Homo sapiens: one gene and its partner. The protein of the gene in region 2 interacts with the protein of the main gene of each other region in a pairwise test. Each region holds a gene or a part of one and is shown on either strand. Other genes may lie near its edges.

Region 1 (3,648 bases), on a different chromosome or scaffold from region 2:
AGTAAGCCAAGATCGTGCCACCGTACTCCAGCCTGGGTGACAGAGTAAGACTCTGTTTCAAAAAAAAAAAGAGGAGGGAAGGGGAGGGAAGGGGAGGGAAGGGGAGGGGAGGGCAGGGGAGGGGAAAGAAGGGAGGGGAGGGGAGGGGAGGGGAGGGGAGGGGAGGGGAGGGGAGGGAAACCAAGTCCTACTGAGTCTTCCTCCTAAATATATCTGGAATCTGTCTTTCATGTCATCCCCACCGATACTCCAGTTCATCACCATGATCACCTTCGGTCTCATTACCACCCCTCTTCCCCGCCAGTCCATTCCGGGACTGCAGCCAACAACAATTTTTCTAAACCCAAATCTAATGTGTCTCCATCACCTCCCTTCCACGGCTCCCTACGGATCTCGAATAATGTCCAAATTCCTTCCTGTGGCCTCTCAGAGGGTGACATGGGCCCGGCCCACTCGACAGGACACCACCCCCCTCCACTGCCCATGCCTTGCCCCAAAGGGGTTTAAGACAGGCCTTGGGAGCAGCAGGAGCTGGGTCCGATCCCAAGGCCTCTGCCGGGGAAAAGGGCTTTCCCCTGACACGGGGTGATGGGAGAATTCTGTGGGGTGATGTAGGGAAGGGAGAAGCTGGGTCCCATTTAACCTGGAGCCCAAGGAGGCAGAAAGGGCAAAAAGAGCCTGTGAGGAGGAGGCTGGGCTCTGGGGCCTGGGTGAGTCCCTGCCATTCACCAGCTGCCCCTTCCCTCTCTGTACAAGGGGGTGGCCACAGGCCACCTGCCCTGGATGCGGAAGACTTGCACCCCAAGGACCAGCTGCTGCCAGGAAAGTTTTGAAAGGTTCCCCTCATGGCCAGGCGCAGCAGCTCATGCCTGTAATCCCAACACTTCAGGAGGCCGAGATGGGAGGAGATCACTTGAGGCCAGGAGTTCGAGACTAGCCTGGCCAACATAGCGAGATCCCATCTCTATAGAAATAAAAATATAAATAAATAAAGGTTCCCCTCAGAACCAGGCACCAAGCTAAACCCTTCATATGCCCCGAATCCTCCTCAACACTGAGGCCTTCCAAAACTGCCCATTTTCCAGAGGCGGAAAGTGAAGCCGGTGAGAGGAGGTTTGCCCAAGGAAGGGGCCAGAACCGCAGAACTCGCCCCTGAGCCCTCCTTCCCTCCCAGGGACTCTCCTGCCAAACAACCCCTTTGTCTTTCTGGCCCGCTCCCCGGACTGCAAAGCTTCTCCTGTTTAGATCCATGGAGTTGGAAGGCAGGTCTGAAGGATGAGCAAGCTGGTGCTCAGAGAGGCCAAGGGACTTCCCCAAGGTCACCAAGGCCGAGTGAGGACCCAGCCCCGCACCGCAGGGGATCGAGTCCTCTCCTAATAACACAGGTGATGTTTCTTGCCCAGATGCCCATCCCGATGCCGAGAGTCCACCTCAGTCTCTCCTGCTGCTGCTCTGCTCCACTGTCAGAGAAAGGAAAGGCCTCCTTGGTTCATGCCCACGCACACGGGATGTACAGGGACGGCCGAAGCCCCTCCCTTGCTTTGGTCCTTTCCTCTCCTTGTGGCTCACCCTGTGCCTGGCTGTGGGCCCTCCATGTCCCCACGCAGCCATCACACAACCCCCAGCTTTGTCCCAAGATGGTCTCCAGTGACTGCCTCCTGAAGGCAGCAGCTTGGCCCACCCTGGTTGAGCAGAGTTGGGTGGGGAGTGATGATCAGAGAATATTCCTCACCCTAGAGGAAGGGGCCCTCATGGGCCCCAGGACAGTCCACAACCAGAGACACCCAAGAACCCAACTGCTGACCCCAACCTGGAGCCAGGGACCCGTCCTCTGCTCGGGGTCACAGAGGCGTCAGCCGTGGGCTCCTGCCCTCCACCTGCTCCTGTGTGCCGGCACCATTCTGGGCATTAGGGAAAAGGCAGAGGAGAGTCAAGGTTGGCAGGCAAGGTCAAGGCAGAGCCTGGGCTGACCAAAGGCAACAGGGAGGAGGTGGCCACCCCTGAGTCCCAGACCGAGGGTCCCTGGGAAGGACCGCAAACATCATGGGGAGGAGAAGGAGAAGGGAGGAGGGCAGAGGTTGTGCCTCTTGGGCCTGGCTGGCTTGGGCCTGCAGTGGCCTCAGAAGCCTTTAAGGGGATGCAGCTCAGACCACCACAAATGGCTTGCACCCCCATGCTGGAGTTTTCGGATAACCCGGCTGCTTTCCTCCTGAGGCCAGGGATTCCATCTCTCTGGTCCACTCCTCTGTCTCCATGCCTGGCACACAGTGAGCACTTAATGAACAGGCCAGGGCAGCTTCACAATTCACAAGTGGGGCTGCGGAGGCCGCTACACGTAAGAGCAGGCCCCTGCTGGGATTCAGGCACAGCAGTCATAGATGTCACCTTCTGTGTGCCAGGCACAAAGACCAGAGTCAGCAAGATTCCTCTGTGGAGAGAAGAAATTTGCCCACAAAATACACATAAGCCCAGTTCAAGATGAAGCTGTATTGTATGGTCAAAATGATATATATTAAGGCCGGGTGCGGTGGCTCAGGCCTGTGATCCCAGAACTTTGGGAAGCCAAGGCAGGAGGATTGCTTGAGGCCAAGAGTTTGAGACCAGCCCAGGCAAAAGGGCAAGACCCTAACTCTACAAAAAAAATGTTTTTAATTAGCCAGGTGTGGTGTTGTACACCCATGGTCCCAGCTACTGGGGAGGCTGAGGCAGGAGGATTGCTTGGACCCAGGAGGTCAAGGTTTAAGTGAGCCATGATTGCACCATTGCACTCCAGTCAGGGCAACACAGCCAGACCCTGTCTCCAAAAAAAAAAAAAAAGAAAGAAAGAAAGAAAGAAAGAAAGAAAGAAAGAAAGAAAGAAAGAAAGAAAGAAAATGAACAAATAAGCATTAATTACGATCACTGGCATTTACTGACCACATACCCCACGCCACATATCAGGCCCCACACTGCACATGAGTTACCCTGTTGACTTCTCACATCCTCTGAGTTCAGGTGCCATGAGCACACCTATTTTGCAGATGAGGAAACTGAGGCTCAGGTAGGTGAGGGGACCGGCCCATCCCACAGCCGGGACACACGGGGAAGCCAACAGCCTCACCAGCAGGTTGGAAGAGAGTGGGCCAGACCTGAAAGAAACTGGGCCGCCCGCAATGCTGACTGCCACTGTCTAAGTCTTGGCTGCAGAGTGACCCTGTCCATCTCTCCCTAACCTGTTGCTGGTGGAAGGCTGAGGACTGGGTTAGGGTTTGAGCCAGGTGGAATCCCAGTGTGTCCAGTGAGGGCCACACTGCTGGGGCCTTTAGACACTCCTGCTTCCTCACACACACAGACCACCACAGACAGAGCCAGAGACGCCCACCAAGGACACTGCCCAGCACCGACTCGGACGTGGACCCATGGCTCCCCTCTAGGCCCCCTTGGCACTGTGGCCAGCTATGCATGAGGTGGGCTAGGACCCCCAGCATACACTGGAACTGTGGTCTTCAATCCGGGCTCCCCAGGACCACCATCTGCAGCACAAACACGTGTCAAGGATGCAAATTCCTGGGCCCCAGCCAGACCTAAAGAATCGGAAATCCGGGAGGGCAGCCCAGGTACCTTCATGTTTATTAATCAACCAGGAGATTCTGACATTTGAGAGTCCTT
Region 2 (3,748 bases):
AGCCCCTCCTGCTCAAGACAGAACTCAGATGTGGACACCCAGCCCTGCAGAACAGATGCAGGACAACACTGTCAGCCATGGCTCAGCCCTTCTGACCATTGCAGTTGAGATGCTGCAACTTCCCAGGGAGCGACTGGGCAAACATGGGGGCCTGAGGTATTCACGGCAACGTGCACAGATGATAAAACTACCTAGAAAAGCATGGAGACCATTAGCGTTAAAGTGAGGCTGGGGCTGCTTCAGGAGGAAGTGGGGTGTGGCTGACAGGAAGTGGGGTAACAAAGAGGAGGTGTTGCGGCATCCCCAGTGTTCTGTTTCTCTAAGCATGTTCATATGTGTAAACCGCTGAGATTTTTTCTTGGGGGGAAGACATTTTTATCTATATGGCTTATATTTCTCCCAAAAATATTTCTAGAAAACTGACATCGGTCTAAGGAGGCTCCACCACACAGGATACTCCCAGTTCCTCCCAGCCCAGCCACACAGTTACAAAAAATCTTCTGCTGAATTCAGGTGCATGTTTCTTCTCCCATGAAATCCTGCCCATCGCGGAGGGTGCATGCCCCGGGGCTGGTGTCCTCACTCCACATCTCCTGTTCACCGGGACCCCTGGGAGCAGAGCTTGCAGAAGCAAAGCCCCAGGGCCAGCTGATCCCTCATGTTCTGGAGTAACCAGGGAAGTGTGGCTGAGCGAGACATCGGTGGTGAAGAAACCCTTCGTGGTGCAGTGAGGAAAGGAGAAATATCTTCCCTTTTGAAATCTGCCCCTTTTCTTCCGAATTTCCTCCCTTCCAAGCCCCACAGTACAACAGTCACAGCCTCAGTTTCCCAGACCTCCTGCGAGCCAGGCTCCCCTCTGTGTCCTTGGCGTGTATCAACACATAGAATCCTCACCTCCACAGCCCCATGTCCCTCTGCTCAGTCCTCCTGAGATTGAACCCCTGACCTACGGGAGAGTGACCCCATCCTGCCTGTGCCCCCCAACTGAAGCTCCTGCCGTGGACAGCTCAGACGTCAGGAGCCTCCATGTCTCCCCTCCGCACAGTGACCCCTTGGGGACAGTGTCCAGCTCTGCTGTGTTGACCTCGTTGTGCAGAAAGGGGGTGCCCACCTCGTGCTTGCTTGGGGGGGATGAGAGGCTGCCTGCTCACCCCACCTGCACCCCCATCTCTCATGGCCCCAAGTCCCACCTCTGAGCTACGCAGATATCCACAGCCTCTGACTCAGGGGTCTGGCCAGATGGGACTCATTTTCACCCTGCAGAAAATGTCACCTAAGGGGAAGGGCATTGAGAGGGAGGCAGGAGGTGGGGTGGGCCCTGCATGGGGTGGGAATCTGGGTGAGTCTGTCTCCCGCTCTGGCCTCAGGGACCCAGGAGTGAACATGGGGTGGTGGACGGTGGATCTCCCAGGGCTGACCCGGGCCTGACAGTGTCTGGGTGTAAAGTTCCTCCTCTGAGGAGGTCACTGTTCCGACCTCGCCCCTGTCTTCCTGTAGGGCCTCCTCTAAGTCTTGAGCCCGCAGTTCCTGAGAGAAGAACCCTGAGGAACAGACGTTCCCTCGCGGCCCTGGCACCTCTAACCCCAGACATGCTGCTGCTGCTGCTGCCCCTGCTCTGGGGGAGGGAGAGGGCGGAAGGACAGACAAGTAAACTGCTGACGATGCAGAGTTCCGTGACGGTGCAGGAAGGCCTGTGTGTCCATGTGCCCTGCTCCTTCTCCTACCCCTCGCATGGCTGGATTTACCCTGGCCCAGTAGTTCATGGCTACTGGTTCCGGGAAGGGGCCAATACAGACCAGGATGCTCCAGTGGCCACAAACAACCCAGCTCGGGCAGTGTGGGAGGAGACTCGGGACCGATTCCACCTCCTTGGGGACCCACATACCAAGAATTGCACCCTGAGCATCAGAGATGCCAGAAGAAGTGATGCGGGGAGATACTTCTTTCGTATGGAGAAAGGAAGTATAAAATGGAATTATAAACATCACCGGCTCTCTGTGAATGTGACAGGTAAGGCACAGGCTCCAGGAAAGGCCACAGGGAAAGGTCATGGGGGCGGCAGGGAAAGGCTGGGATGGAGCCCCTGCCCCAGGAGAGGGCTTAGGGTGAAGCGAGTTGGCTCAGGGCAGGAGCTGGACCAGAGCCTGAGCTCCCCCCAGGGCTGCACCATGGATCCTCTGACCTGATCCTGAGTCCCCCTCTCTTCACCAGCCTTGACCCACAGGCCCAACATCCTCATCCCAGGCACCCTGGAGTCCGGCTGCCCCCAGAATCTGACCTGCTCTGTGCCCTGGGCCTGTGAGCAGGGGACACCCCCTATGATCTCCTGGATAGGGACCTCCGTGTCCCCCCTGGACCCCTCCACCACCCGCTCCTCGGTGCTCACCCTCATCCCACAGCCCCAGGACCATGGCACCAGCCTCACCTGTCAGGTGACCTTCCCTGGGGCCAGCGTGACCACGAACAAGACCGTCCATCTCAACGTGTCCTGTGAGTGCTGGGCCGGGACGCCTGGGTCCCTGATGGGGTGAGCGTCAAGCCTGGACACTGGGTGCTGGGTCCCGGAATCTGGGCTGGTGGTGGGGTCAGGAGGACACTGGCTCTGCCTTCCCTGTTTATGCGGCTCCTGGGGACAGACAGGGCCAGTGTCCCCAGCCCTCACAGTGATGCGGGTCTCCATGTCTTTCTGTCCCAGACCCGCCTCAGAACTTGACCATGACTGTCTTCCAAGGAGACGGCACAGGTAGGATGGAGCTCCCTCCCTGGGGCTGGAGGAGCAGGGCCTTCAGGTCAGGATGGGGCTGGCTTATTCCTCAACCTGGACTCACTTTGGCAAACAGGGATGTCCTTGTGGGTGAACTCAGGGCCCCTCTGTATCCTTAGGCCCCAAGGCCACTTGTTCCCATCCTCCCATCACCTCCCTTGGACTCCCCCACACACCCCCCCCTCAGCCTCAAACAAGAAGAGGGTGGCATTCACACAGCAGGACCAGGCTTTGAGGCTCCTTCTCATGTATCTCCTGAATACATCTCCACCCTTATCTGTTTATTTCTGATAGTTCTGATCTAAGTACTTCTGGACAGGTGATAAATGTCCATGGGCAAAAATTCAAATTGCAGAGCAAAGGCTCTCCTCCGATGCCTGCCCCCCTCCCCAGAACCAACCACTGTCCATCCAGGCTGCCCTGAGTCTCGGTTTGTACACCTGGAGGATCTCAGAGGTGGTTTGACGTCCGTAGTGAGACTGTCCGCACCCTCCTCTAGGGCTGTGTGTGAGTCCACTGCATGGATGGACTCTGATTTTGTGGCATCTCCTAATGGAAGATCACGGCACTAATTTCATCCTACGGCAGGATAGAACAATCTTGTATCTACTTCCACAGGAATATCTAAGCCTGTGGGTTAAGTTCCTAAAAGCAAAATGTAGCTACATTATATGTTCTTTCTTATTTTGAAAGATAAGCCCAAACTGTTCTCGATGAAGCGGGGAGAAGTTTACATTCCCAGCAGTGAGTGGTGAAAGTGTGTGTTTCCAGAACTTCAGTCTATGTCTGTGTGTCAGTTGCTGTCATCAGTCTCTTTCTGTATCCTTCCTTTTTCTCCAGATCTATGTATCTCTCTGACCCTCTGTCTCTTTTTCTACAGTATCCACAGTCTTGGGAAATGGCTCATCTCTGTCACTCCCAGAGGGCCAGTCTCTGCGCCTGGTCTGTGCAGTTGATGCAGTTGACAGCAATCCCCCTGCCAGG

Evidence for each region.
Region 1: the proteins of SIGLEC9 (region 2) and NCS1 interact in binary tests that used the Homo sapiens proteins (3 or more experiments, as listed by UniProt).

The regions. Positions count from the first base shown.
Region 1 is NC_000009.12:130,175,364-130,179,011, reverse strand, and holds part of NCS1 (neuronal calcium sensor 1), read right to left. Parts: intron 1-3,648. UniProt on the Homo sapiens protein: Neuronal calcium sensor, regulator of G protein-coupled receptor phosphorylation in a calcium dependent manner. Directly regulates GRK1 (RHOK), but not GRK2 to GRK5. Can substitute for calmodulin. Stimulates PI4KB kinase activity.
Region 2 is NC_000019.10:51,123,386-51,127,133, forward strand, and holds the start of SIGLEC9 (sialic acid-binding Ig-like lectin 9 isoform 2 precursor), read left to right. Parts: upstream 1-1,520; 5' UTR 1,521-1,589; coding exon 1,590-2,010; intron 2,011-2,211; coding exon 2,212-2,490; intron 2,491-2,695; coding exon 2,696-2,743; intron 2,744-3,644; coding exon 3,645-3,748. UniProt on the Homo sapiens protein: Putative adhesion molecule that mediates sialic-acid dependent binding to cells. Preferentially binds to alpha-2,3- or alpha-2,6-linked sialic acid. The sialic acid recognition site may be masked by cis interactions with sialic acids on the same cell surface.